Linked DNA regions of Homo sapiens. The protein of the gene in region 5 purifies or fractionates together with the protein of the main gene of each other region. This does not show direct contact. Each region holds a gene or a part of one and is shown on either strand. Other genes may lie near its edges. The genes, in order: TPBG, SEMA3A, KLHL26, LECT2, FAM241A, AGPAT3 and MAN1A2.

The links.
Region 1: the proteins of FAM241A (region 5) and TPBG purify together in Homo sapiens (co-immunoprecipitation; 2 studies listed by BioGRID and IntAct, with this or other methods). This does not show direct contact.
Region 2: the proteins of FAM241A (region 5) and SEMA3A purify together in Homo sapiens (co-immunoprecipitation; one large-scale study listed by IntAct). This does not show direct contact.
Region 3: the proteins of FAM241A (region 5) and KLHL26 purify together in Homo sapiens (affinity purification with mass spectrometry; one large-scale study listed by BioGRID and IntAct). This does not show direct contact.
Region 4: the proteins of FAM241A (region 5) and LECT2 purify together in Homo sapiens (co-immunoprecipitation; one large-scale study listed by IntAct). This does not show direct contact.
Region 6: the proteins of FAM241A (region 5) and AGPAT3 purify together in Homo sapiens (affinity purification with mass spectrometry; one large-scale study listed by BioGRID and IntAct). This does not show direct contact.
Region 7: the proteins of FAM241A (region 5) and MAN1A2 purify together in Homo sapiens (affinity purification with mass spectrometry; one large-scale study listed by BioGRID and IntAct). This does not show direct contact.

Annotation. Positions count from the first base shown.
Region 1 is NC_000006.12:82,362,062-82,366,850, reverse strand, and holds the start of TPBG (trophoblast glycoprotein precursor), read right to left. Parts: upstream 3,035-4,789; 5' UTR 2,943-3,034; intron 2,608-2,942; exon of another isoform or gene 2,522-2,607; intron 2,229-2,521; 5' UTR 1,890-2,228; coding exon 627-1,889; 3' UTR 1-626. UniProt on the Homo sapiens protein: May function as an inhibitor of Wnt/beta-catenin signaling by indirectly interacting with LRP6 and blocking Wnt3a-dependent LRP6 internalization.
Region 2 is NC_000007.14:84,191,596-84,196,381, reverse strand, and holds the start of SEMA3A (semaphorin-3A precursor), read left to right. Parts: upstream 1-1,592; 5' UTR 1,593-1,795; coding exon 1,796-1,907; intron 1,908-4,786. UniProt on the Homo sapiens protein: Involved in the development of the olfactory system and in neuronal control of puberty. Induces the collapse and paralysis of neuronal growth cones. Could serve as a ligand that guides specific growth cones by a motility-inhibiting mechanism.
Region 3 is NC_000019.10:18,660,720-18,664,746, reverse strand, and holds part of KLHL26 (kelch-like protein 26), read right to left. Parts: intron 487-4,027; coding exon 304-486; intron 1-303. UniProt on the Homo sapiens protein: May play a role in endo(sarco)plasmic reticulum (ER/SR) mitochondrial signaling. May be part of the ubiquitin-proteasome system (UPS) and affect ubiquitination and degradation of target substrates in cardiomyocytes.
Region 4 is NC_000005.10:135,951,822-135,956,647, reverse strand, and holds the start of LECT2 (leukocyte cell-derived chemotaxin-2 precursor), read left to right. Parts: upstream 1-1,664; 5' UTR 1,665-1,814; coding exon 1,815-1,860; intron 1,861-3,680; coding exon 3,681-3,777; intron 3,778-4,826. UniProt on the Homo sapiens protein: Has a neutrophil chemotactic activity. Also a positive regulator of chondrocyte proliferation. Does not show metalloendopeptidase activity.
Region 5 is NC_000004.12:112,190,015-112,193,192, reverse strand, and holds part of FAM241A (uncharacterized protein FAM241A), read right to left. Parts: 3' UTR 1-3,178.
Region 6 is NC_000021.9:43,965,760-43,969,786, reverse strand, and holds part of AGPAT3 (1-acyl-sn-glycerol-3-phosphate acyltransferase gamma), read right to left. Parts: intron 1,842-4,027; coding exon 1,672-1,841; intron 670-1,671; coding exon 508-669; intron 1-507. UniProt on the Homo sapiens protein: Converts 1-acyl-sn-glycerol-3-phosphate (lysophosphatidic acid or LPA) into 1,2-diacyl-sn-glycerol-3-phosphate (phosphatidic acid or PA) by incorporating an acyl moiety at the sn-2 position of the glycerol backbone.
Region 7 is NC_000001.11:117,373,887-117,377,913, reverse strand, and holds part of MAN1A2 (mannosyl-oligosaccharide 1,2-alpha-mannosidase IB), read right to left. Parts: intron 1-4,027. UniProt on the Homo sapiens protein: Involved in the maturation of Asn-linked oligosaccharides. Progressively trim alpha-1,2-linked mannose residues from Man(9)GlcNAc(2) to produce Man(5)GlcNAc(2).

The DNA.
Region 1 (4,789 bases), on a different chromosome or scaffold from region 5:
AGTACATTTTCATATAAACTGCAATCAAAAAAGTAATTTACTTTGTCAAAGAAGTTATGAAGTTGCAAGTTATTTTTTGTAATATGCAGAACAGTAAAATGTAAGCATGCTCTTGGATGCAGGTGCTCCTGTGCACCATGGAGTTATTTTGAAGAGCCTGCTAACGTCTGCAGGCAGTTTATAGGATGCAATTATTTTCTCCACAACTTAGGTACATGAGAATAAAACTGATATTTATGAATAAAGTATTTTTCTCGAAAAAGTTGAGGCAGCTTTTGTTGAATGCTATCTGTGTGGGTACACTTGCTACACCTTGAACTGTACTGAGAGAGAGACAGACAGCAAGAAGCCCATGTTCATGCTGAAACCTGAAAAATCCCTCCATACGTGTTGAGGAGTTCCAAGAAAAAGAAGAGGGTAAAACACTATACACAACTGTTCATCGTCTTACATTAACAGAACACACCGAGAAACTTTACATAACAAGGAAGCAAATCCCCTTCACTGCTTTTAGTCAAAGTCCGTTGTATCTATAGTGGAGGATGAAAGTGGAGCAAGCCTAGTAGGGATAAAGCTTAAGTCTACATCTCATGCAGAGTTGTCCTTGGTCTGTCCTCTAATATTTCTCAGACATCCGAGTTAGAACTGAGGTTCGTTAATCTGGGGTCCGCATTGATTTCATATCTGTAATGATACCCTTCCATGTGATCCCTGCAGGCATCTCTGATGTTATGCATCCACTTTTTTATCCCCTTGCGGTTCAAATACAAAACCAGGAGGAAAATAGCGCCTATCAGGGCTAAAACAATACCCAGGAAGACATAAGAGGTTTGCAGGGATGGGGGAAGAATCGGGTCACAGTCCAGGTCAGCACTGTTGAGTTCCAAGAGGACCCGATTCCTCATTTTTTCCGGATATGCACAGGTGAGCCGGTCTTTGCCCTGCACTACCTCTGTTTCCTTGAGCCAGGTCACCATGTCTGCCATGTGGCAGTCGCAGACCCAGGGATTGTTGTCCAGGAAAACCCTAATGTGGGGTAGACCTTGCAACTCAGCCAGGGTGCCATTGTGAAGGACCTTGAGGGCATTGTCCTCCAGGTGGAGGCTTTCTAGATGTGTCAGGTTGCGGAAGGACACGTAGGTCAGGCTCACCAGCGAATTATTACTTAAGTCCAGGTGCCTGAGGCTGGGCAGTTGGGCCAGCACATCCCGCGGCAGGTAAAGGAAGTGGTTGCTGGCCAGCTCCAAGCGGCGGAGCCCCTGCAGTGCACGGCCCGCCAGCAGGGCCGCCACCACCATGCCCTCGAAGCTCCGGTTCTGCCGCTCATCTTCAGGGGGCACGATGTGGTTCAGGATCAGTTCCACAAGGGGACTGGGGGCCGAGACGCTGGCATTGCTGCCCGAGAAAGCGAAGGGACTGAGGTCGGCCAGTGGGTTGTGGCTGAGGTCGAGCTGGCGCAGGCTGGGCAGATGCTCGAAGGCGCCCGCGCGCACCTCGTCCAGGCGGCTGCCGCTGAGGTTGAGCGCGGCCAGCTCCGCCAGCGGCGGCCGGCGGGCGAAGGCGCCGGCAGGGAGCACGGCCAGCTGGTTGCCGGTAAGGAAGAGGTTGCGCACGTAGGCGGGCAGGTCCGTGGGCACCTCGGTCAGATTGCGGTTAACGCACTTGACTGTGCGCGCTGCCTCGGAGCACTCGCACAGCGCGGGGCACTGGTCCGGCAGCGGGGGCTGGGCGGACACGGCGGAAGCCAGGAACGGCGCCGAGGAGGAGAAGGAGGATGCCGAGGAGGTGGGAGAAGACGAGGAGACCCAGCCCAGGAGTACCAGCGCTAGTCGCGCCAGCCGCAGACGCCCGTCCCCGGCGGCGGGGCCCCGGGAGCACCCCCCAGGCATCGCGGCTCGCGTTTCCCCGGAGCTGGGCTGGGACGGCGCCCGCTCCGAAGGCTCGGGAGGCTGGGCCCGGAGGGCGCGAGCCGGCGGAAGCGTCTGGAAAAAAAAAACTTTCCTCTCGTGGAACCGAGGGAGTGGCGCCGCAGCCGGAACTTGGCTAACCCCCTCGCCACCGGGCGCTTCCCTCAGGGGCCGATTCCCCCGCCCCTTCCCTCCAGAAAGTACGCACGGCGGGTCGGGACGCTCCGCTCCGCGCTCCTGCTCCCGCTCCTCTTCCTGCCGCCGCCCTGGTGCCACCTCTTCGCCTCTTGTTGGCGCCCCTCGCTGGATCCTCTGAGGGACCTGGGACAAGCAGGAGAGAGGCGTGAACAGCGGTGGCTGCCGCGGCTTCCGGAGTGCAAAAACCGGCCTTTTCGAGTCTAGTCGTCTCCAGTCTGTCCCAGAGACCTCCTTCCAAAAGCCCGCCCCGGCCTCGCCTCCCCAACCCCTCCGGTCACTTTTACTCCGGAGGGGGACGCGCATCCGACACCCAGACCGCAAAGTCTTCCTTCTTCCCTGGCCCACACTAAATAAACCCGACCGGCCTCCCGCCCTCCGCCTTTCCCGAGGAGACTCGTCTCCCGCGTCTAACTTACCGCTTAATCCCCAATTCCTTCCCTACCAAACTTCTCCCTCTCCCGTTCCTTCCTGCACCGCCTCGGCGGAAGGTCGGCCTCCGGGTGTCTCCGCCCCCGCCCAGACCTCTCCACCAGGTCCCGGTTAGGATGCGAGGGAAGTTTCAGGTTACAGGACTTTTTGATCTCTTTTTGTACCTTCTCGCATTAGCAGGAAGTGGAGCTACAACTGTCGCCCCCCAGCCCGCGCCCCGCCAGCCCCTCGGATCTCAAAGGGGTTCAAGTCATCTCCAAAGAGGAGGGGAGAGTCTGGGAACAAAGCAGCAGTGGGACTCGGGGTACAGTGGCAACCCGAACCAACCCTACTCTCCACCCGAGGATGGGGAGGGGCCCCAACGACGCCTCCCGGGTCTCTCCCAGGCCGCGGGCTCCCACTGCTCACCTCCGCGTCCGCCGCCTCCAGAACCAACTCTGAGTTCCACCAGAGTAGCGACGACTTCCCGGCTCCGCGTTGCGGGCGCCGACTCTCTTCGCACCCCAGCCCCTGGCCCAACCTCCCAACCTCCGCAGCTGGGAAAAACCAACCCGGGGGGCGGGGGAGGGCCAGGACTGTCGGGGAGATTCCCGACGCGCGGCCAACCTCGGCAGCCGTAGGTAGGGGGATTTAAGAAGAGAGACTAGGGGAGCTGGGCTGCGCGCCTCCTCCTGGTGGAAATTAACGAGGAATGTGCCGGAAAAGGTGAGGGAATCCCTTTCTCTCCCCCCTCCCCGACATCCTTGGGTGGTTCCTCATTTTGCATACTGTATTTACCTTGGACTGGAGCAAAACCGCTGGTGAATCTCGTGGAATTCACCCTGATTCAGGCACCTTTGGCAGTGACGAGATAGATTTAGGCATGACAGAGCAGCGCGAAGCAGCAGCAGAAAGAAATGAGCTGAAAATCTACTGCGGCAGCAGCAAAGGCACGGCAGGTTGTATGGAAGCTTCAGAAGCTCTCCCCATCAAAGTGGTACTTGAGGCCGCAAACTTCAGATTTAGGTGTAATTAATGCCTTCCCGCCTGTCCCCCCCGCCCCCTCACTTCTTGGGTAGTGATGGAACTTGTGAAGAGAGCGCGCCAACTTTAAGAGAGAGAGAGAGAGAAAGAAAAAAAAAAGATTAGTGGAGAGGAGATTCATTCCTGATTCATTAGCTTTTCTCTTACCAAAATTAAAAGCAGATGGAAGAGAAAGGCAGCCAAAGGCATCCCAGAAACAAAAGGCAAATAGCAAAGACTTGAGTCTCCCGGAAAGCGGACCCGCCCCCCTCCCCAGATGTAGCGCGGTGTGTCAAGTCACTTCTGTGGAGAAAGCTCCAAGGATGAGGAGTGGGGATTGCAGGAGCTGACCTGGGAGAGAAGTTTGGTTTCAAAGTCGATTGTCCCAGGGGGCATCTGGCAGATGGTGATGGAGAGGATGGGGTTGGGGAGAGGGACAAATTGAATGGTTGGTTACCGGAAGGATCTGTTATTATACCAGACAGGTTTTGGGTTCTGAAAGCCCTATCGTTGCTCTCTGTAACTCCACATCCCCTTTGTCCCAATTAAATAATTTCCCCGAAGGGATAAGAAGGTTCTTCCAGGCTTCTTCATTTTAGAGAGAAAATGGCAATTAGGGAAAACATGGTTCGGAAATTTAAGACCTGGTCGTATTAAAAAAGATCAAATAAGGATCCTGAGGCTTGTGCCTGGGACATGTGCCTTTAGTGTGAAGAAAGACCCCAACTCTCCAACGGACGCCTGATTACTTTTATAGAAAGAGATAGTCTGCAAAGCCGACAGCAAAAATGGCTCAGACAAAAGCTGAAAACACTGGAAACTGCAGAGATTTGTGCACAAAAGCTGGTTTCATTAATTTGCATCTTCAGCACGTTTATCTACATCTCTTTTCTTATTTTTAAAAGTGTTTTGCAACATGAATGTAAAACACTTTGAAAAAGAATCTCTAAAGCTGTAGTCATGTTCTGTATCCGGATTGTGGTGGTGGTTACATAAACCTATACAACGTGTTATAACTCATAGAACTTTGTAAACCAAAAGAGTCAATTTTACTGTATGATAAGTTTAAAAATAAAATTAATTACTCATTGGAAAAAACCTGTAATAATGCTCTGGCATGGTATTAACTCTGGTCCTGATCTGAAGACCAACTGCTTTGTTAGGAGAGTGAGATACACTTTAGAATTTAGAAACATAATATATATACTCATCTGATTTTCAAGACAACTCAGAGGCAAGATAAATATTGTTAG
Region 2 (4,786 bases), on a different chromosome or scaffold from region 5:
GAGAGAGAGAGAGAGAGAGAGAGAGAGAAAGCAGAGCGAGCGAGCGCTGTGCTTTCTCTATTGGTCTGTGGACATTAAGTAATGAAAGCTGTAGTGACAATGCTTAGATCATTTTCTTAAGAATACTAAGCCACTTTCAGTAGGTGTTTATGTTTTTAATTGTGAGACTCACTCTCTCCCTTCAGCCAAGAAGTTTCCCTACTATTGAAGTTGAGTCTCTGGATTCCAAGTGCTGTTCTGGAGGTGGGGGGTGGGGAGTGGTGGTAGGAGGGGGTAGGGCAGAATCATTTGGGGAATAAAGGAGAGAAAGTTCTGTCCTGTTAACTTTTTTATACATCCCCTAAAGATTCTTGTAAAAATATCAGCTTTGAGGAAAACTGAATGAAAAATAAGAGAGAAAATTGAGAGGCCACAGCCAACTACTTGTTTCAGAAGGAACTAATGGTGTTCATATGACTGCCTGAATACATGCCTATACGTCCCACAGAAAATTTAGTAACCCTTCAGCAGCTCATGAAGACACAGAGATATTCTTTTCATGTTACTCCTTGACACTCAGCAGGGACTTTTGTGAACTTTGTCATCTTCCGCTGCCCTTTAAACCAAAACTAGGGAAGTGTCTTTAATTAATGAGATGTGATGCATTGAAAATGTTAGCCAGAGCATTCCAGAAGCTGGAAAACCATAGACGTTTTTAAATTCTGAGTATCCTTTTGAGAATCCCCCGTTGTAATTTATAATTCTCAAAGGACCTATATTTGTCTTGAACTGATTGTTGGAATGGGCTTTAGTAGGAATTTCTTCCCTGAAATTGCAGTGGGACAGAGGAAGGGGGTGGTTGAGCCCAGGGGGTTTGTTGGGAGGAGGGAATGATCTCTAACAAGGCTTTAAAACCTTCAGTGGTTAAAGTTGTATTGATGAGGATATATAGACACACACACACACACACACACACACACGCACACATACAATGCACAAGTTCAGCAGGATTGTATAATGAGCATGAATTGTAAATTTTGTAGGTAGCAGAATTCAGATTTTTAAAATCAAAATTGCACCCAAAAATGGCTATAAAACAACGCTTGCCTTGGGAAGTAAATTTATAGCTACATGCCTTTCACAGGCACGCCTGAGGGTTCTGCTCCCGGCTCTAATCTCTACGAGATGTTTTTTGCATGTGTTGTGTGACAGGAGGGAAGGGGAGTAGGTTGAGCTCGCCTGTTCTCCCATTGTCAGCCAGTCTAGTGAGTGTTGGGGAAACCTGTCTGTGGGATCTTGTGTCATCTCCCTCTACATGCGTACAGGAAAAGTCCGCGCTGCTCACGGTTTCTCTCTCTCTCTCTCTCTCTCTCTCTCTTTCTCTCTCTCTCTCTCTCTGTTTCCCTTTCATTCTGCTTCCCCGGAGCCGAATGAAGCAGGGAGCAGGATTAGAGACTGCCACCGGCTATCAGAGGAGCTTAGATAAAAGGAACTGCTTCTTAAGCACCACTGCAGCAGACCTTGTTAATTTTTTTTTTTTTTCTTTCCACACAACAGTTGTGCCTCATTATCCGGTGCCTGGCTCGGAATTTTTTTTTTTTTTTTTCTTTTTGGAGGGTTTGAAGTTTCTGTGCTTCAGTGACTGTTACAGAAGAAGAGGTGTTAGTGTTGCCATGAGGTCTTGATTGTCTGCATTTATGAATGAAACTGACCTAAATCACCTGTTACCTCCAGTTTCCAGATTGTTTGAACTTCTCTGGCCGCACAATACAGGAAGGAAGACTAAAGCAGCAAAGGGACCTACAGCGTCTGCAGCATGGGCTGGTTAACTAGGATTGTCTGTCTTTTCTGGGGAGTATTACTTACAGCAAGAGCAAACTATCAGAATGGGAAGAACAATGTGCCAAGGCTGAAATTATCCTACAAAGGTAAATCTTATTTTTCTTTTATTTGGTTAGCTTTGTAATAACCGCCCCCCCCCTTAATTCCTTGAACTCCCTCCCAACCCCAAATCATCAAACCTTTAGTTTAACCTGGTAAACCGACGTGATTATGTGTATCTTTCTGAGATGCTTTAAACGCTTTTTGTAAAAAGCATGTCTTCTGTTTGATATATGACAACTTAAATGCAAACAAAGAACATTTAATCACATTTGCTGAAAAGAGCTGTATGCCTGGTACACGCTGATCTGTATATCTTATTATCCTATCTTATGCCTGTTAATTTTTCCGACTTTAATTCTATTAAAATATTTTCTTAAAAATAGAAATGCAAAAATGGTCTCTTTGTAGATGTGCATGCCTTACCTATAATTACTATGATGAATTGCATTTTCTTAGTTTTAGACATGAAATGGTTAATCGTCATCATGAATATTCAGTTTGTTCAAATCTGACAATCAGATGCTTAACATAAGCAGTAGATCATGGTTTGCCAAGAGAACATAAACTGGATGGAACAGACTAGTTTTTCCACAGTGCCTTATGATTGTACAAAAGACTGTATTTGGCTAATTGTGTAAAGCTAAAGTCTTTGAAATATTATGTTATTTAATTCTATATGTACTTCAGTGAGAACTGCAGACACATTACTGTCTGCTTGCATAGGTAGTTGTGTAAACTTCTCTTTTGAAAAGTATAAATTAAAGAGAGAAAAAAGAGCTTTATCACTAGTGCTTTATTTGGTTACAATTTAATGTATGTGCTTATTTTTATTGAGGATTTTTTATGTTTGTTCCACATTTGCTTAGATAGGTCTTATAGATAGATGATGTGTAAAGTAATGCTAAAGTAGAGCCCAAAATGATATACATACATTTAGTGGCAGTAAATCTTTCTATAACTCAGGTATTATTAAAATGGAGTTGAAGATTAAACTGTTTTAACTCAAGTAGTTTTACTCCCTAAGGTGTTGATTTCTTATGATTCTCAGATTTCTAAAATTGGGGGTGGAGCAGTGAGAAGCTCTAATTAAGCTTATTTTTTAGCCTATAAGTTAAAATAAAAATTATTGAAGGTATTTGTAGAGATGTCTGTCTACTGTACCTTGCTCTTATGCCACAAAACATATTCTTTAATTCTCATATGATGGGGAACATCTTTTTCTGAATGCCCTAGTGTGAATGAGGATCTCAAATCAGAAGAGAGATGTAATTTTCACACTTTGAATTAGAAAATTAAACACCTAGTAATGTGTTTCTTTGGACTTAGTGCTCGTTAAATGAAATGCATTGAATTAGAATATCTATTTACTTTTTGGTGTAATGTTTTCCTGAGTATCAAGTTGGGAATAGAGACTTAAACATCAACAAACAGAAGTGCAATTGTACTTATGTAAGTTTTAAAAAATCATGTAGCGTTATTTAATTAATTTAGTAACTGTCTTTAAATTATTTCCATAGTATATGATATTATGGTGTCTGTGTTTTTATCAGTTTTGCTTTCTGTTTTCACTCCTTGACAAGGTGACATCAAATAAGTCTAAGTTGATGGTCCACTTTATCCAAGTTTATGTTCCCTATAAGTTTTACATGCAACTTTAGTTCTCAAAGATGTGACTGGCTATTTGTAATACTTTTAGTTTAACAAGTTTAAAATCATGATATATATTTTAAAAATCTGCTAGGCTTGAATATATCTAAGTGCTAAATTCATTTTAAAATAAAATAAAAATAGGGAATTAAACTTTTTTATTTTGCAAGAATTTTATTTCCATGATAATAGGTTACTCTCCATGATAGAGGAGGCACTTGTTCTTTCTGTACATTAAAAATATTACATTTAATTTGAATATCCTTTGTTGTACACATATGCCTTAAACCTATCTGATGAAGCAAGCAGTATATATTAGCAAGGTGTATATATTTGATATTGTCTTTATAAGCCTTGTTTTAGTGATGGCATCCATTAGAATTATTCTGCTTTCCTTTAAGTAAAAAACTGCTTTACAGCTACATAACAATCCCATTGATACACCTAGAGCTTAATAATTTGGTAAAATAAACTGTGAAATGAACAACAGGAAGAAGAATAAAAGGAATGGCCTGAGGAAATTTTTTTCTGTTATTTTATTAATCTGTCATTACCTTTTTGTCTCTACATGTACGTTTGTTTGGCCAAAGCAAGTATGTGGTAGCCAATTGCCAGTACTTTGTTTCTAAAGTACAATAGAGATTTTTTTAAAGCTACTTCTTGTTTCTCCTTAATTAGATGTCAAACACAGTTAAAACATCCACTGCATTGCCCTTAAAAATATTCCAGCATGATTCATGAAGAGTTAAATCCCTGCCAACCTTAATTTCCCATGGTCACTTGTTTTCAAAGATCCACCATTAACTCTCTCATTGCTCAGGTTGCCAAGATGAAGTTTCTGGCAATCACTGTGCTTACTTTCTACTTATCATTTTTGCCTGGTAGGAGATGAAAGAGACTTGACATGTTAAAAAGAAGTAAAAACAGGAAAGTGGCCTTTGTAGCGGGTGTACATATCTAATAAGATACCTCTTTACTTTCTAGGAAAAAGGAATTGAATAGATGTGTTCAGGACCATCTGGAGAAGTGATAATATTAGAAAAATGGGGTATGCTGGCTTTTCCTCTGAACCAATTTGATTTAGAATCCTTATGGGGGAAGAAAATGTGAGAACTCTGTAAATCTCAGCAGTTACATAGAAATTATCCTTAAGAAACATTTACTCAGAAATACTTTTGTCTTCTTTAAATATATGTAATATAGCTAAATGGTAAAATCCTTCTTTTAAAAAGTGGTCCATGCATAAATGTTTATTTCTTCTACAAAACTAGTCAAA
Region 3 (4,027 bases), on a different chromosome or scaffold from region 5:
AGCTGGGCATGGTGGCGGGTGCCTGTACTCCCAGCTACTCGGGAGGCTGAGGCAGGAGAACTGCTTGAACCCAGGAGGCGGAGGTTGCAGTGAGCCGAGATTGTGCCACTGCACTCCAGCCTGGGCAACAGCGCGAGACTCCATCTCAAAAAAAAAAAAAGAGCAGCCGGTACCAGCCGTTCTCCCTCGAAGCTGTCCCTGGGTAGCGCTGAGACAGGCCCCCTTTAGAAAGTGGGTGCCATCTGCCCTGTCCCTGTCCCAACAGGCAGCCGCCCCTTCCAGCTGCCTGGGGCCAGCACTTACCTGAAGTAGTCGCTGCAGGCAGCCAGGACGACCTTGTGTGCAGGAAAGGCCTCTCTGTTAATAGTCAGCACAACATCGAGGAGCTGGCCCTGAGCGCGGAGGGTGGCCAGGCCCTGCAGGAGGCTGGTGCTGTGGCTGGGTGCCGAGAAGGTGCACTTGAGGGCCCCGTTCTTGTCGGCCGTGCTGCGGGGAAAGCAGAGGTGGGGACATGGCCCAGAGGTTCACACACACACTATTACCTTGAACACAACACTCAGTGCAAGAAGCCAGACACAAAAGGCCGCACTGTGTATGACTCCACTGACGTGAAATGCCCAGAACAGGCAAATCCGCAGAGACAGGAAGCAGATGGGTGCCACCAAGGGCTGGGGGAGGGGAGGGGGGAGTGACTGCTGATGGGGTGGGGTCTCCTTTTGGAGGGATGAGAATGTTCTGGAACTAGACAGAGGTGGTGTTTGCATACCACTGTGAATCTACTAAATGCCACTGAATTGTCCACTTTCAGACAGTTTTATGTCACGTGAATTTCACTTCAATAAAAAAACCAAAGGACACACGGGAGCCTTCTCAAGTCCCCTGCAAGCCCCGCCACAGCCCCCTGCACCCCAGAGTATACGAGCCCTCTGTGGTCCAGCCCCCACTGCCCCTACTGCCCCCTCATCCCCTCTTCTCCAGCCCCACCACCCCTTTGCTATTTCATTTGGGGAAACTGTTGAACGGATCAATGAATTAATAGCTTAGGAGCCGTTAACACACCACTTCTTCCTCAGAACACAACAGGGGGTGGACCCTGGTGCCACCTCCAGGATCAGTCCCCTCTAAGACCCCCACCCCCACCGGGCTGAGGCACCCTGCTCTGTCCTGGTGGCCTCTGCCCTCTGGAATTTGCTCTCCCATTCCTGGGACCCACGCCTGCCTGTAAGCAAAGGCCAGGAATGCGGGCACTGATCTTTCCAAGAAAGCGGGAGGAGACGGAAGGCTCCTTGGCCCCACTGCCAGCCAGCCCCAAAACCACAGTGGGCATTAAAGAGCCAACGTCAAACACAGGGCACACAGTGGGCACTCAGTCAACATAGCAGCTGCCACCGGAGGTCCCTGACCTCCCCTTCAGACCACCCTTCCAGAGACCCTTGGGAAAGGGTGAGTGATCAAGACAAACTGCCGGGGAGAGGGGCTTCAGGGCCAGGCGCTGACCACAGCCCTGCAAGGCACCACAGGCAGAGAAGTTGCCCAAGCCCCAGCCCTGCCTGCGAGGCACTGCATGTCCTAGAGGGTGGGGACATAGCACGAAGGACCCAGTGTGGGGCCTGTGCTCAGTGGAAAGCCTTTGAGTCCCTGGGGAAGCAGGACATATGCTACTCAGAGCCCAATGCCACGGTCATCTGGGCTGGCCAGCAATGCTGCGGTGCTGGGGGTGCTGGAGCCCAGACCTGGTGTTTGCCTGGGAGGGTGGGGGTGCAGCCTTTTGAAAGCTGAGGAGGGCAGGGAAGGAAAGGGGTCCAGGTGCACCCTGAGACTCTGGCTTGTCCCCGTGGCCTTTCCCCTGCCAAGTGGAAGGGACGCTTACCTCCCCTCCTCCCTTCCTCCCCTCCCCACACATCGGCCCCGATCCCACTTGACCAGGCTGCTGCCCTGAGCCAAGCCTTGGCTCTTTTTTCCCTAGACCCATGACAGATCCAGATCCGAGGCTTGTGAGGAGCATGTCGCAGGCTCATGGGCCGCTCTCCCCTATCCAGCCCCCCACAGGGGTCCAGCACCTGCCTGGACATCTCCAGGGCAGGGTCTCATTGCTTCCCACGAATGGCATGCCCTCTCACCGACACCCTGCGACGGGTGTCCAGGCTGCCTGGGGCCAAAGCCGCATCCTGCATGTGCCTCTGAGGACCCTCAAGGTCTCTCCTTGTCCCCAGTTTGCCTCACTGGCTTTGCAAACTCCTCTTCCCTGCCCGTGCATGCAGGGATGCTGCGTAAATGAGACGAAGTAGGCCCCGTCCTCATGGGCACGCGGTCCAGGCAATGGGGACCAAAAGGGGTCAGATCACCCAGAATCAGCTTTGTGTTGCAGCTGTGGCAAGGGTTGTGCATTCGGGCTCTGGGTGACCCCTGCCGGCCTTTCTGTGGACACTTTGTCTCCCAGAAGTATGCATGGGCCTTGCCAGCCTTTGCCATTTTGATTTTGGTCTGGTTTTTCCTTAGAAGTTCAAGGAGATTTGCGGGGAGGGATGGGAGGACTTCTCGTGCCTCCTGTAAAGCCCTTGGAGGCAGGTGTGCATGTGTACATTTTCATCAGAAGAAACACGTTGCACTGGGACAAGTTCACCACGGGGCCACTCAGTCCTTAGGAGCATATTTACCATGCTCTTCCATATATAAAGAGCATCAAGAAATCAATACAAATTAGCCAGGCATGCTGGCATGAGCCTGTGTTCCCAGCTACTTGGGAGGCTGAGGTGAGAGGATCACTTGAGTTCGGGAGGTGGAGGCTGCAGTGAGCCATATTTGTGCCACTGCACTCCAGCCTGGGTGACAGAGTGAGATCGAAAGATGCACAAAGAATGTGGGCTAATGGTTCCCAGGAAAGCAAGCAGAGCTGGCTAGAAGGACGTAAGAGTCAGCCTCGCTTGCAGTCAGGGAAGCACACTCTCGGGGGGCTTATGAAGCAAGGTGACCCCCAGGAAGGCAGCTGCGTAGACTCAGCAACACTCTAAAGGCTCATGTCCTTTACCCAAGAACTCTATTTCTGAAACTTACCCAAATACAATCTCTAGGGGCCACAGACGAGAAATAAGCTAACCACCCTTAAAGGAGATTCGTGGAATCACAGCACCTTCTGAGTGAGGGCTGCCCTATAGATGGGTGAGGAGGCTGACGCATCCTGGGGAAGATGTTGCATGCAGGGGATGACGTCAAGGCTGCAGGAGGAAGGAAGAGGCAGAGTGCACACAGTGGGATGCTATTTGGGCTCAAAGTGCCACACATATGCATCTGCCCATGAGTGCACAGAACATATCTGGAGAACTGAGAAGTTGGACAGAGAGGACCTCCCTCTGGGGAGGAGAGGAGCTACTGCCCTGCACCCTGCTACTCTGATGACTGAGGAACAGGAAACCAGGGAGGTGGGCCAGTGTTCCAAACATGGGATCTGTGGGTTCCCCAGCAAGCAGAGAGGGTGCCCGGAACCCAGAAGGCAGGATCAGTTCAGCTGACTGGCAGGGCATCTCAGAGGAGACATCAGGGGCCAGCAGCCTGGGCCAAGCCAGCTCTGGTTAGCTGGGAACTCAGCAGTCACTCAACCACCCAGGCCTCAGCTACAAAGCAGGGGCAAATGACCATCCAGCTCCCCAGCCCCAGGGCCGCTGGAGGATGAGATGAGCAAACGCAGAGCCCTGGGACCCAGGCTGCCACTAGCACGTGACGACTACACACTCGGAGAATCTGGATGCTCCCATCTGGAATTTAGGACACCCCAGGCCCAGAAAGCAGGGTGAGGCCCATCCACTGCTGGTTACAGGGCACAGGGCCCACGCTGGACCAAAGAGGGGAGGAAGCAGCTTGTCCTCCCCAGGCCTCCTCCTCATGCCCTGGTGATGCCTGACGCGTTCCACATGGCTGTTTCCTTCCTCTCATCTTAGGGATGGGACAACTGTCCCTGAGGCCCCTGACGTCACCCTCACTGCCGCCCCTGTGAAGCCAAACCCACCCCACTGCAGCCCCTCCTGGGGAA
Region 4 (4,826 bases), on a different chromosome or scaffold from region 5:
GCAGGATCATCTGCCTCACGGCGATGTAGAAACACAGGAAGGAGTGTGCAAAGACTAAGGCCCCAGAAGACCCAGGCTTTCCCGACCCACTGCCACTTCTGCCTCATCTTAGTGGTCAAAGCTACACAGCTAAACCCAAAATCAAGGGTGAGGAAAGTTCCCTTTGCCCCCATGAAACATGGCAAAGGTGTGGATGCAGAGAGGGTGAAGAACTGGGGCTACAATCCCAATCTCCCACAGCTACTGGCACATAATTTAAATGGGGAAGCTTCCATAGAAAATTCCAGGTGCTCATCTAATATTAAGCTAAAAAGGAGCTGCTAACATATATTTGAAACACACTGAAAATTTAATTCCCCAGAAAAGTACAGGGTAACATAACATCCATGTGTCTATCTCCAATAATTAACAAATTAATATTTTAACATATTTGCTTCTGATTTTTTTCTTTTTTTAGAAATAAAATATTTTAGAGTTTATGTACTCTGTATATCCTTCCACGGTTTTATTTCTCTCACTATCCAGAAGTAATTAGTACCTTAAAGGTAGTCTGTGCATATTTTTATTATACATACAGCATTCATTAAGATTAATATACTTGTTTTCAGATTTTACATATTATAAATAGTATGATACTATATATATAATTCTAAAAATAGCTTTTTAATTCAACAGTATATCTAGAGATCTAGCTGTGTTAATACATGTAGATTGTCTTCATTTAAATTGTTATATTTTACTCTGTTGTATGACTGTATTATTCTGTTCTTGCATTGCTATAAAGAAATACCTGAGATTGGGTAATTTATAAAGAAAAGAGGTACAGAAAGCATGGTAGCTTCTTGGGACGTCTCAGGAAACTGAAAATCATGGCGGAAGGCAAAGGGCAAGCAGGCATGTCTTACACGGCTGAAGCAGGAGGAAGTGAGAACAGGGGAGGTGCTACACACTTTTAAACAACCGGATCTCACCATAACTCACTCACTCACTATCAGGACAACAGCACTAAGGGGATGATGCCAACCCATTCATGAGCACTCTAGCCCCATAATTCAATCACCTCTCACCAGGCCCCACCTCCAACACTGGGGATTACAATTGAACATGAGATTTGGGTGGGGACACAGATCCAAACCATATCAATGACTATATTATAATTAATCTTTTTTCCTTTATTGATGGATGCTTTTAATGGTGTTAACTTACCATTATCATAAACAAGAAAACATTTAAAAATCACATATTTAAGGTGAATACATGCAATTTTATTAAAATATTAAAGTTATTTGCAAATATTACACAGGTGAAATATAATTAAACTGAGAATTCAAAAACACCTAAGGGATATATTAAGGAATATGTTATGAAGGGCTACACATTATTAATGACCAATTTTCTTCTGAAATATGTGCTATCAAGGAAATAAAAGAAAGATCTACCAGCAGGCAGCACTAAATATTCCATCATTCGCACGAACATTCTCCTACAAGCCACAGCCCAGAAGACTGTCGATATGCACCTAGCCTTATCATTTTCTGTTAATATTTAGTCAGTATTTCCAATATAATTGGCTTCTTCTTCAGATCAAAGGCTTTTACATAGGCCCTACCTGCAAATCAAATAGCTATCCATGGAATATTAGAACTTGACTTGCTCCATCCTCTTAAACTTTTTGTGTCTCACACTAAAGAAATGAGAGATGCAGAATTCTAAGGCTAAATAGCTAGGAAGTATTCATTCAAACTTGAATATTCTTCAAAGAGAGTGTGGGGGCAACTCTAATCAGAGGAAGAAACTAAAGGAAGTAAAACCAGATGTTTTCCACCAAAGCCCTCCTTTTGGCTGGTCTGATTTCTACCGGTAAGTCGAAAGTGCAATTTTAGAATATTGATTAACTTTTAAAAACTGATTTCAGGGGAAGACTAAAAAGATTAAAAAGTCATTAATAGCATGATCACAACAAAGACTTGTGTATTTGGCTATTAAAAATGAAATAGGAATGACACATGGTCCTGAGGATGTTTTAAGTAATTTAAATGGAATGTTCCGGTTCTTTAATGAGGGAAACATAATAGTGGGTTGAGAAGACATTACAAAGCCTTTCAGTCTGAGTCTGGGTCTGGGACTTAACTAGAACAAAACTAGATAATAAAAAGTTGATATAAATATTTGATTCTGATTTTGATCAAAATCAAATTCTGATACAGATACTAATACAGAGACTGGTATGGATTAAGACAAAGGGATGGCTCCCTTAATACTCACCGAAGGAGGAAAAAGTGAATAAATTACTACACTGTCTGATATTTGCCTCAATTCCCAAGGATAAATATTAGTTGCCAAAGTGATGGGATTATATCTTGATCAAGGTGTTGATTTGGAGCTTGGCTCCAAGGCATAAAACTTTTGAAACCCACCTTTTAAAAGTATTTTAAAGAAGAGGCTTAATGGCCATATTCTGTAGGTTCTCTTCACAGGATAGGTATTAATGAAGAGTAAAATGTCTTTAAATAAAATCAATAGTCAAATTACCAGGCTCTCGCTTTTGCTTGTTTGTTTCAAAGTGCAAGGTTGAGTGTGCTCACTGTATCTCTCTGTGAATGTTAACACTGGAAATCCAGGACATTTAATTCCATTGAACATTTATTAAGTGCTTACTATAGTAAAGAAACAAATTGTGCCTGAAACAAAGTTTGCACCAAGTCTGCTGAGAAAGCAGCCCCTCCTCCACGTTTCATAATTTTTCATATAATTGGTTCTACTCCTTCTCCTACCTTCACCCCTAATCTCAGTCTAGGCTAAATTGGTTTGACATTTCAGATTATTTTTAAGAATCTCCCTCTTCCATGTTGGCAACTATGAGAGATTTATCTAGTGTTAAACAAACTTGGCTAGTACAGAGTTCGTTTCTCCTTTAATTCAAACATTTGCTTGGATTTGATTAGTGGAACTAACCATTTCAAAATTACAATTTCTAAAATTATTTTCTGAGCCATGCTATTTTATTATTTTTGCTTAATCTAAAAATAATGATCCCCATGGCAGATAATGAGCAAAGAAAAATAGAAAAGCACAACTTATACCATTTACTAATGGATCTGAAGCAAAGTATAATGATGGAGGCCAATGCTTATAAAGAAACACATTCAGCTGGGCGCAGTGGCTCACGCCTGTAATCCCTGCACTTTGGGAGGCTGAGGCAGGCAGATCACGAGGTCAAGAGATCAAGACCGTCCTGACCAACATGGTGAAACTCCGTCTCTACTAAAAATACAAAAATTAGCTGGGTGTGGTGGTGCGCACCTGTAGTCCCAGCTACTCAGGCGGCTGGGGAAGGAGAATCACTTGAACCCAGGAGATGGAGGTTGAAGTCAGCTGAGATCACGCCACTGTGCTCCAGCTTGGCAACAGAGTGAGACTCCGATCCAAAAAAAAAAAAAATTGTATTCACTGATACTCTAACGTCACAAAGCAGAATTCTGTGGCCAGGGAAAAAGCCAATTTTACATCTGAATCAGGAAATAAAATTCTGGAAGGACGATCTTCCCATAAATACATAAAGTCCAGGGAAAACTACAGTGAAAACAGAATTGTCAGGATCAACTGTGTGACTGATAAGGCAAATGGGGATAGGAAATGTCTGAGGCCAGGAGCTCTGCTCTCACTTTTCTCCTTTTTAGCACTGGCAGGGCCATGGGCTAATATATGTGCTGGCAAGTCTTCCAATGAGATCCGGACGTGTGACCGCCATGGCTGTGGACAGTACTCTGCTCAAAGGTATGAAGTTGCACAACCACCCACCCAACCCTTTGGTCCCTAACCTCTTTTCTTAGTGTCCTTGCCCAACGTTGGTTGCCTCAAGGGCTCACAGTTCTGACAGCATGAAAAACCAGAGATGTAACCAGTTACATCACTGTCTTTGGAGCAGCTTCCAAGAACTCTGCTTCAAGTATGAGCTATAAATTGGGATCAGAATGTGGAAGAAGGAAAAGATCAGGGAGCAAACACAATGTTTTCCTTCTGAATGTCTTCACACATTCACTTATCTCAACTGTTTTTTTCCAAAGGGTTATTAAACACAACTATCCCATTTTATAGAAGAGAAACTTTAACTGAGGTACCAAAGGGTTAAGGGACCTGCCAAGCACAGTTGGAGATGGTGAAGCCTGGACCTGAATTCAGGCTTTTGGTTCCTCTTCCCACCAAACCACGCGGTTACTGGCTCAGGCTCTGGATGTTGAATATTAGAGGCTGGCCCTAAGCAGGAGAGAAAGCACCACTATCTCTTCCAGAAAATGAGGGTCACACTTGTGAATTTTCAGTTATACCCAACATCACCTTGGGGTGCCACTTTCTAATGAAATAGCCATGTGTCCAGTCATATCACTGATCTCCATCCTAACTAGAGGGGAACTCTCACATATACAGATACTACTTACAAAGCAACCTCAAATACTGAAACAGGACTAAGAGAAGGGAAATATGGGAAACGTCCCTTGAATTGCCAAAATTCAGACTCAGCTTATACTGCAAAGTTTATGCACTTGATTGATACAGTAAATTCTTGGCTCTTGAGCTTGCTCAGTGTTGCTTTGTACATAATTGCAGCAATCCTGGTGAACCTGATCGTTCAGGTGACAGCCTATTAGAAGGTAGGGGAGGCTGGTGAGAGCAGGCATAGTGACAGCAGCGGGAAGCAAGAGCTGAGGGGTTGCTAAGACGAACTCAAGGCACGTCACAATCTAGAATAGTTTGATTTGGGCTCCATGCACTTTAATAAACCCAGGAGGTATCACTCATTGTATTAAAATACCATATACAGTAAG
Region 5 (3,178 bases):
ACCCCATCAAAAAGTGGGCAAAGGACATGAACAGACACTTCTCAAAAGAAGACATTTATGCAGCCAAAAAACACATGAAAAAATGCTCACCATCACTGACCATCAGAGAAATGCAAATCAAAACCACAATGAGATACCATCTCACACCAGTTAGAATGGCGATCATTAAAAAGTCAGGAAACAACAGGTGCTGGAGAGGATGTGGAGAAATAGGAACACTTTTACACTGTTGGTGGGACTGTAAACTAGTTCAACCATTGTGGAAGTCAGTGTGGCGATTCCTCAGGAATCTAGAACTAGAAATACCATTTGACCCAGCCATCCCATTACTGGGTATATACTCAAAGGACTATAAATCATGCTGCTATAAAGACACATGCACACGTATGTTTATTGCAGCACTATTCACAATAGCAAAGACTTGGAACCAACCCAAATGTCCAACAATGATAGACTGGATTAAGAAAATGTGGCACATATACACCATGGAATACTATGCAGCCATAAAAAAGGATGAGTTCATGTCCTTTGTAGGGACATGGATGAAATTGGAAATCATCATTCTCAGTAAACTATCGCAAGGACAAAAAACCAAACACCACATGTTCTCACTCATAGATGGGAATTGAACAATGAGAACACATGGACACAGGAAGGGGAACATCACACTCTGGGGACTGTTGTGGGGTGGGGGGAGGGGAGAGGGATAGCATTAGGAGATATACCTAATGCTAAATGACGAGTTAATGGGTGCAGCACACTAGCATGGCACATGTATACATATGTAACTAACCTGCACATTGTACACATGTACCCTAAAACTTAAAGTATAATAACAATAAAATAAAAGAAAAAAATTAAAAAATTAAAATGTAGTAAATAAAGGTCTATTAAAAAATACTGAACAAAAGTGAAGTTCTGGTAGTATCAGTGACCGTAGGTATTGTAAAATATCCTTTTTGGAAAAATAGTGAATCAACCAAACATTGAAAATACATTTTCTCCTAAAATACACAAGTGTATAGTGGAAATACTGTGTATGTATCCAAATAACAGCAGTATTCTTTTATCAGAAGTGAATAGCTTTATAAATTATAATGTATACATCAACCCATGCTCTTTGTGCACAGTAAGTATACTTTTGGAGTCAAAGAACTTCAAAGTACAACCAGCTCTAGATCTTTTTTGTTAGTGGTCTATATGAAGACCATGAGTAGATGAAGTGGGTTTACTTGATAAATATTTTGATGGCCTATTATGTCCCAGGCATTGTGTTAGGCACTAGCAATGCAATTATAGAATGACAGACATGTTCTCTTCCCTTGTGAAGCCTATTGATTAATTTAATAATTAATCAATTATTAAAGCAGCAGCTGACAAATAAGCTATTGCAATATAGCATGAGAAGTGCTGACCTGGAAAGCACAGGGTTGCACTTGAGAAACCAAGCCATAATGAAGAACCAAAACTGGATTTAAAGGAGTCAGAGAAGTTTCCCTGGAGGACATGATGTCTCACTTGAGGTCTTAAGGCTGTGTAGATATTGGTCAGTCTGGTAGGGAGCAGTTAAAGAAGTAAAGCATGTACAAAGTTCTGGAAGTAAGAAAGCATGTCTCTTTAAAGGAACTGGGGAAAAGTTCAGTATAGTTGAATCCTGGAAATGGAGAGTGGCAGTATAGAGAGATGAGGTACGCAAGAACCAGTACATGAAGAGCCTTGTAAAACATATTAAGGCATAAGGACTTTATCATAACGAAAACAGAAAGCCATTGAAAAGATTTAGGTCAAGGATATCAGAATCATGTTAGAATAATTCTTTAGAAAGATCTGTAACTACAAAGTGGAAAATGAAGGTAGGGAGGCTAATCAGGATTCTCAGCATGCCAGGTGAGATGATGGCAGAATGGACTCAGTGATGCTAGGAATGAATAGAAGTAGAAAGATTATATTTTTAGAAGTAAAATAGATTTGGTACTTGGTTACATGTAGGTAGTGTAGGAAACACAGAGTCAAGGATGTCATCTACAACTCCTGCTTGAGCAGTTAGGGAAAGGATTGTGTCATTTGCTGAGATGGGAAACAGGAATTAAAGATTTGGGAGAAGGATGCTGCGCTCGTTTGGACACGCTGAGTCTTGGGTACTATGGGATAACCAAATGCAAATAAATATTGGGCAAGCAATTGAATGTAGGAGTCTTAAATTCTGTACAGTGCTCTGATCTAGAGATGCAAATTGGGGAGCTGTTAGGATGCAAATGGTAACTCTGCAGCCACGGGAGTGGTGACATTGCCGAGCTGCTGTGTGGAGTGATGTGAGAGCAGGCTGTTGGACTGAACTCCAACGCATACCAAAAATTAAATGTTGGGCAGAGAGACAAGAGTTGCAAATGACCTCTAATCCACCAATACTCCTGAAGTCATAGTTTGTAAATAAGTTTATATTCTTCTCGGCCAACTCTATTACCAGGCATGAAAGTCTTTTTTTTTTTTTTTTGAGATGGAGTTTCGCTCTTGTTGCCCAGATTGAGTGCAAGGGCATAATCTTGGCTCACTGCAAACTTTGGCTTCCGGGTTCAAGCGACTCTCCTGCCTCAGCCTCCTGAGTAGCTGAGATTACAGGCATGCACCACCACGCCTAGCTAATTTTGTATTTTTTTTTTTTTTTTTTTAGTAGAGACGGGGTTTCTCCATGTTGGTCAGGCTAGTCTCGAACTCCCGACCTCAGGTGATCCGCCCGCTTCGGCCTCCCAAAGTGCTGTCCCAGCACTTTTATAGGGATGAGCCACCGCGCCTGGCCGTCTTACATTTTTTTTTCTCCCTTCAATTGTAAAGCCATAAATTGGTAATGAAAGCATTTTAAACACCTGAAATTAATAAACATTTGTAAAATAACTATTAAAACAATCTATGAACCACACGAATAGCCTTTGATTGCTCCAAACCTGGCTTTGACTATTTTGAGCTTTCTATATTACAACAGACCTTTACTTATACTGTAATTTTTCCTCTATCATTCTGTAAGTTTTGCCTTTCCTGATTGCCTGGATAGTCTTTAGTGGATTTACAGCTTGGTGACAGCCTAGAGAGATTTTCTGTGGTCAAAACATGATTAAATAGAGATTTGTTGGTCAGAAGATAACCATGAACCATAATACCCACAAGGGAAAGAGCCAGATTC
Region 6 (4,027 bases), on a different chromosome or scaffold from region 5:
GGTGGTGGTTGCAGTGACCCGAGATTGCACCACTGCACTCCAGCCTGGGCGACAGAGCGAGACTCCGTTTCAAACACACACACACACACAAAAACACACACAACAAAACGAACAAGAAAACAAAAAAACAGAAATGCTAACAGCACAGGCAGCCCATTTTCCAAGACAGACCAGGAAGAAGGGACAGAAAAAGAATGGGGATGCACACTGAGCAGGGCGGGCAGAGCCAGGGCTCACTGGGGGCACCCTGCTCTGCCCCCTCCCCCGGCCAGATCCCCTTAGGATGGCCTGGTCAGAGCTGGGATTGCGGCGAGTAGCAAGCAGGTGGCCCAAGAGAAGCCTCCACGCCTGCAGCTCAGATGGGGGAGTCATGGCCCCATGGAAACAGCACCCCATGTGCAGAGGCTCTCATGGGGTTTCCCAGCCTGGGATGTGGGCAGCCGTGCATCAGGAGTTGGCGTGGCCTCCTCCAGGCATGCAGGGTATCGGGCTGCTCCGCGCACTCACCCACATGTACTCGGGGTAGTCCGACAGGCGCCTCAGCCCTTCGACCACGGTGTCCCGGTCCTCCTCCCACTTCCGCTTGCAGAACACAATCTCCAGAAAGTACCACGTCCAGCCGATGAGGGGCACGTAGAGCAGCTCCTTCTTAGCGAGGACCTTGGAGCTCTGGAGGGAGGAGAAGGAGGGGCACCTGGCACTTCAGCGTCGGACAGAGGCCAGGGGCTTGGCCAGGCTCCCGCTGCACCCAGCTCCTGTGTGGTGTCGCTCTAGGAGTCACGGCTTTGTGGCTCAGGGGGTCTGCTGTGAAGCAGGACCCGGCTTCTGAGGGTGAGTGGGTCGCCCCAGAAATGAGGAAACTGAGGCTCAGGCTTGGCTGGGAGGGCCCTCAGGGAAGGTGGATGAGCCGGATGCAGAGGCTGCCAGGCTTCCGGGGGGTGGCCTGGGGGTGCTGCCTCACACAGGGGCTTTGACTGCAATGAAATTCTTCTGCCAGCATCGGGGAGTAGTTTAGGTTTCATCTGAGGCAGCTTAGCTAACGGAAGTGGTTCTGCAGGGACGCAGGTGGGGTCATCTCAAAGGCAAAGGCCATGATGAGAAAGGAGGGCACAGCTCGGGGACAGCTGAGGCCCTGCGGGCCAGGGCCCCTCAACCAGCCAGGCACCACTGCCGAGCTCAAAGAGACGCCCCAGGAGGAACACCCAGGGACTCGGACCCCAGGGGCCTCCCCGGCACCTCCTCAGGGAGTCCCCTGCTCCCCTAGCCCTTTCCCTGGGAAACCCAAGGCTCTCCCAGCTCCTCTGCTGGGACCCCCACTGCTCCACCCAGTACCTCCCCCACCCAGGGCCCTCTTGCTCACCCCAGCACCCGCCTACTCCCCCAGATCCTCCCCAGGACCCTTGCCGCTCACTCCCAGCACCTCCCCTGGAAGGTGCTCACCCTAGCCTCTCCCTGGGACCCCCCACTCACCCCCAGCCCTCCCCAGGACCACCCCACCCTGCTCATCCCCAGCCCTCCTGGGACCCCGCCCAGCTCACTCCCAGTCACCACCCCACCCCCAGCCCTGCAGGGACCCCCTGCTCACCCCGGCCCTCCCTGGGTCCCCGCTCACCCCCGGCCCTCCCCGGGACCCTCCTGCTCACCCGTGGCCCTCCCCAGGTCCCCGCTCACCCCCAGCACTCCGAAGCGCTCACACATGGTCCACCCACAGAGGAAGTCGATCTCGAAGTTGTGGTTGAGGATGATGACTGCGTGCTCCTTCCCAAAGCGCTCTACCGTGGCCTGGTCCGTGAACAGTGTACACTCCGTGCAGGACCACCACTCCAGCAGCATGACCAGTTCTGCGGACAGGGGGAGGGCGTTGGCACTGGTAGGACCCCTCCTCCTGGGATGGTCAGGGAGCGCCCACAGGAGACACCTACAGTATTTTTGTCCAGAGAGGAAGTCTCTGCTAAACATGAGTTTTGATGACTTACACTGAGTACGTTTTATGAAATTACAATAACTTTCTCTAAGCAACAGTTGGGAGGAGACAGATGGAAGGTAGCAGCAGAAAGGGAGAGAACCGCCACTCTGCATGGAGACGCTGATCTTTACGCCCAATTACGCTTCTCACGTGCACCTTGGTGTGGCCGAGTACCGCACAGCCACGCCCCGTGAGAGGTGCAGAAGATGAAAAATGTCACTAGATGATTAGGAAGCAGAAAACAACCATCGTATGTCTGCAGAACAGACAGTGGGAAAAAATGAAGAGTTAAGAGCAGAATGGAATTATAGACGACAGAGTAATAGGAATTATATTTTCTCCTAAAACTTGCTTTGGGGTTACACTGGTTTTCCATATTTAAAAAAAAGCCATGTGAGGCCTAGCCCGCCCCCAGGAAGGCCGGCTGGGGGTGCTCGACGGGGCTTGCTGCTGGGCAGGTGGCCAGAGGCCTGCGGGGTCCCCAGAGACAGCAGGGCACACCTGACCCCGTGGGTGCTGGCATGTGAGGGGTGCCAGTCCTGGCTTTGAGTGCTTGTCCCCCCCACCCAGGGGTTCTTGGAGCCTCCTCCCTTGGTCTCTTCCCCTGGCTCCGGCCTGGTGAGCTGAAGACACTCTTCCCAGAAGTGTGGAGGGGCTCGTGCCGGGAGATCTGTTTGCCGGCAGGAGACCTGCACGCCTGGGAGGGCTCTGGGGCTGCTGGGAACGCAGCATCGTCTGTCTCCTGATGGGGACTCTGGGATGCCCTCATTCACCTTCGGGAGAACTGCAGGGCTGAAGAGTTCCGTGGTGAGAACGGTGCATCTTTGTCACACGTGGGCCTCAGAGGGAGTTAGTCCTGTTCAGAGGGCCATGTGGGGAAGGACAAGAGGGAGGCCAAGCAGGTGGGCCTCTTGTCGGCCACCAGAGTCTTGTGCCCCCCAGCCAGTTGTCCGGGAAGGATGGCCCCACAGAACCAGGACGCGGCTTCCAGCTCAGGACGGCCTCAGGCTTCTCGCGCTGGACACCAGCCCAGCTCTGAAGTGTGGGCTTTCTGCAAGGCCATTGCCCGGGGTTCTTTTATACCAGTTATTTATAAAGGACACTAGAGACCAATTCCAAAGACATCCTGCACGGGTGAACAAAGGGCCGCTACCCGAGATCACGCAGCTCAGCCCAGGATGGCCAGAGACGCCTGCAGACAGCGTGCAGGTGCAGGGAAGTGTCTTCCCAGCGGTCATGATGCTGCAGGCACATGCAGGCGAGCAGAAAGGACGCAGAAAGGAGAGAGGGAACTCAGGGTTTGTGGGGGTACCAAGGGACCCCAATTCCTTTAAAAGAGAAAGGTCACCTGTGGGCAGAGGCAGTGGACGGGAGGAAATCCTGCGTGTGGGGAGAAGACTCGCTGACCAAGCCCCCACAGCAGGCCTGCCCTGGCAGGGGCGCCCCCACCGCTGGCTCACCCCTGGCAAGTGCTTGAGACCTCTGCCTTTAGGGTCATGCCTAAAGGCTGGAGAAGGGGAATGAACTGAATGGGAGCCCACACAGCCAGCCAGACACAGGCACACTCCCCATGAGTGTTCTGGAAAGACGAGCTGCGCTGTCTGGAGAATGGTCCCATCCAAAGGTCACCTGTGGCAAGCCCAGGGACATGTGGCACTTTTCCCTTGCTGTCGGCATGCAAAGGCAGCCTTCAGCGGATCTCAGGACCCCTCGGCTGACGCTGGCTAACTGCAGACAGCTGTCAGGGCAGGCATCTGTAAACTGTCTTGCAGGGTGGGCGGCGCCTGGGCCCGATATGAAATTCCTTTTATCATTTCCTTCACTCAAATACATGCTTCCCTAAAGCACAATGAGTAAGCCAGCCATAGCCTATTTTTCAACCACGGATTTAAAAAAATCTAAAATTCTGGACGGGTGCGGTGGCTCAAGCCTGTAATCCCAGCACTTTGGGAGGCCGAGACAGGAGGATCACTTGAGGCCAGGAGTTCAAGACCAGCTGGGGAAGCATGGCAAAAGCCCATCTCTACTTAAAAATAAAAAAAATTAGCTGGATGTGGTGGC
Region 7 (4,027 bases), on a different chromosome or scaffold from region 5:
TTAGCCAGGATGGTCTCAATCACCTGACCTCGTGATCCACCCGCCTCGGCCTCCCAAAGTGCTGGGATTACAGGCATGAGCCAATAACTTTTAAAATAAGAATGATACATTAAACTTAACCTACCAGATATGAAAGCATACTATTATAAAACTATGAAATTAAAATAGTGTGGTGCTTTTGGGAGTAACCAGAAAGATTCACAGCACCAGAAACAAAACGAACACAAAAAAACAAAGAAACCCTTTGTATATATTGGGATGGGATATATCATTTATTTAACTAATACCCTGCTGACAGACATCTAGGTCACTTACAATATGTCATGTTATAGCTTCAGGGGACATTCTTGAACACTTCTTTGTGCACTGATTTGTGAAACTTCAGTTTCACACGGATTTGTGAAAGAAGTGATTTGAACACTTCTTTGTGAAAATTTCCCAAGGATAAATCCCTAGAAGGATTGCTGAATCAAAGAATATGCACTATAAGTTAGTTGATATAAATAAATTGCTCTTTATGAAAATTCTATTAATTTACATTTACACCAACGGCACTGAAGAAGAGCCAGAGGCTCAATGTTCACCTTACTCAGCGTGTTACCAATCTTTTTATGTAGAGAGAAAAAAATCTAGGTCATGAAAACATATTTATTAATGACAACACAAATTAATAGAAAATAATCCTCATTTATTATATTTAACAGATACACACCAAACACATACAAACTTTGTATCAGATGCCACCTGACTGCCAACTAATTGGAAAAAAGTCATGTATGCATGTATAACATTATAAACATACAGATATAACCATATATAGCCATATGTAAATATGTTCATGTATATATGGCTAAATATAAACACAGTTGTTCCTTGATATCCATGAGGAATTGGTTCCAGGACCTCCCTTGGAAACCAAAATCCACAAATGCTTAAGTCTCTTATATAAAATACTGTAGTATTTGCATATAACCCATGTACAACCTCTCCTGTACTTAAAATTAACTCTAGCTTACTTATAATACCTAATATAATGTAAATGCAATGTAAATAGTGATTATACTGTATTGTTCAGGAAATAATGACAAGAAAAAATAGTCTGTACATGTTCAGTACAGACACAATCATCTTTAACTTTTTCTGAATATTTTCAACCTGCAGTTGGTTGAATCCACACATGTGGAACCTATGGATACAGAGGGCCAACTGTACATACAAAGGTACCAGATCTCAACTTCACACAATGTTAGGAATTCTTTTCAGATGCCAGAGCCTGATTCCTTACCAAAACGCTTCAAAATATTTGTCTCTTTTTTCCAGATGTCAGGCTGTAACTGAGGTCTGAGGAGAGTTGGTGGGTGAGTGGCAGGTAGTTGGAAAAACACTAGAGGAATCATAGTTTCAACATGGCTTTACTCTCTGGGCGTGAGCGAGCCTTGGCGCGAGCCTTTTGTACCACGTTAGCAGGGTAATTAGACCTTTCACAGACCATAGTGGCTCCAAGCCAAGCACACACTCACATGGGTGATCACCTAATGCGCCTCACATGACATGGTTACATAATAAGCGGAGCTGTATGCCTGCACTCCAAACTCACTTGAGTCATGCTGGACCGGATGTCTGCCTCGACCTATTCTTGACCGCAGCATCCATCTTCCTTATACCAGATAACCCAGACCGTATATTAGAAATACATAAATTAGGGCCGGGCGCAGTGGGCTCACGCCTGTAATCCCAGCACTTTGGGAGGCCGAGGCGGGCGGATCACGAGGTCAGGAGATCGAGACCATCCTGGCTAACGCGGTGAAACCCCGTCTCTACAAAAAATACAAAAAATAGCCGGGCGTGGTGGCGGGCGCCTGTAGTACCAGCTACTCGGGCGGCTGAGGCAGGAGAATGGCGTGAACCCAGGAGGCGGAGCTTGCAGTGAGCCGAGATCGCGCCACTGCACTCCAGCCTGGGCGACAGAGCAAGACTCCGTCTCAAAAAAAAAAAAAACATAAATTAATTATCTTAAATACATCTTAGAAAAAGAAAACAAAAATGGGGAGAGATAGAATAACTTATCTGAACTCTTAAAAAATGCCAATGACCTAAATGCCTGTACCAGAACCTCCCATAGGTGGAAAGTTATCTCTAAGACCCCTGGAATCTGGCTCCAAACATAATAATATGCTTTAAGAAAAATATCAAGACGTGAGTCTAAGATCTGAATTTTTCAATAGTCAAAATTAATCTTCTGTAACATTCATTAATAATCTCCAATATTTAGCAAAATGCCTGGTACATAATAAACACTCAAAACACTTGCTGAACAAATGATTGTGACTAATATTTTTTAATGGTAATATCAACATCACTAAGGGGAGGCCAAGAGAGCTACATAACAGGTTGATTATATAAATATTTTTTTAAAAAGTCAAAAGGAAAAACAACACCTGTGTTCTTTGTAATCTCCAGATTACTTAATTTCCTCTTTTTTTAAAAAAACTATTTGTATAACTTGTCCCAAAAGTTGTTCTTAAGATATGGAGAACAGGAGAGAACACTTTCAGTGGAATCTCTCAATATTAAGGTTAGGAAATTATAGTCCTTCCCATGAGAGGTGTGTTTTGTTAAAAAATTAAAATAAATTTTTTTAAAAAAGGAAATTATAGCCTTAAATCAAAGAAAATTGTGCCACAGGAGTAGTAAGAGCCTTCAAAGGGTCTGAGGCCTCAGTCAAGGACTGTATTCCACAGAATCTATCCTAAAGTCTCAGGTAACAGGTGAAGACGTGTAATTGATAACTGGGCTCAAGAAATGACACCTGAAAACAATTTTGTAAATATACCCACTACATTCAGGCTGGCATATCAAATGCTCAATAAACTATACTTTAAAACTAACAAGAAACAAGAATGTATAAAAGTCATTTCGTTCATTTTCACATTTTAAATCGGTATAGATTTCATTATGTAAATAATAATATTATGTAAATAAATTTTAGTCATTTCCAAAGTGATTTTAAACTAATTTTTATATACAAAAAAGACACTAATTCCTTTAGAATACATTTTATCTTTGTAATATTTGAGATGTATGAACTAAATTACTGCACACTCTTCAGTTCCCTACTTCATAAAATTACTTGTATTTCATATGCATGAGCTAGAAAAAAATCTTTAAAGATTCAATCAATTCCCTCATTTCATAAATAAGAACATCGAGGCACAGAGAAGTTGAATAGCATATCTAAATATACTTCAACAACCAAGGACAATGGTGAAACTAAAGCCCCTGTCTCTTAACACTGAGTCCAATGTTCTTTCTAATATATAATGATGCCTTCCTTCTGGACTACATTAAATTCAAAAACAGATCATTGGAAAGAATGCCCTTTGAAGGAGATTTTTTTTTTAATGACAAATCCTAATACCCAATCTGAAAATAAAACTCCAGTGCAGACTTCATTACAACCATGTTTTAACAGGAATAAAGTTCTAGCAAAAATTCAATAGCAGTGAAAATAAACTTTTCTGACAGAATTTGCACAACTAGGGAAAATAAAAGTAGCAATATGATTTTCCTATCCAAGAAATATGTGGAGTCAGCCCAAACCAGAAGTTAATTTTTTTTAAAGAGGCAGAGCCTCTGTCTCTCAGGCTGGAATGCACGGACACAATCATAGCTAACTACACCCTCGAACTCCTGGGCTCAAGTGATCCTCCCACCTCAGCCTCCGACTACAGGCAGGCACCAACCACCATGCCCAGCTGTGTGCATGTGCGAGTATGTGCAGTGACAGGGTCTCACTATGTTGCCCAGGCTAGTCTCAAACTCCTGGCCTCAATCAATCAATCCTCCCACCTCCACCTCCCACATAAGTTAAATATTCTATAATTTTCAAACAATAGTAAACAAAACATTTGCCCAGTTAAAAATAAATTGGCTGCTCTGCCTATAATCCTTTGTTTCTTTCCTCCTCTAATAAACTTGCTTTCACTTAAAAAAAAAAATCAATTAATGTTTACCATGTACTACTGAT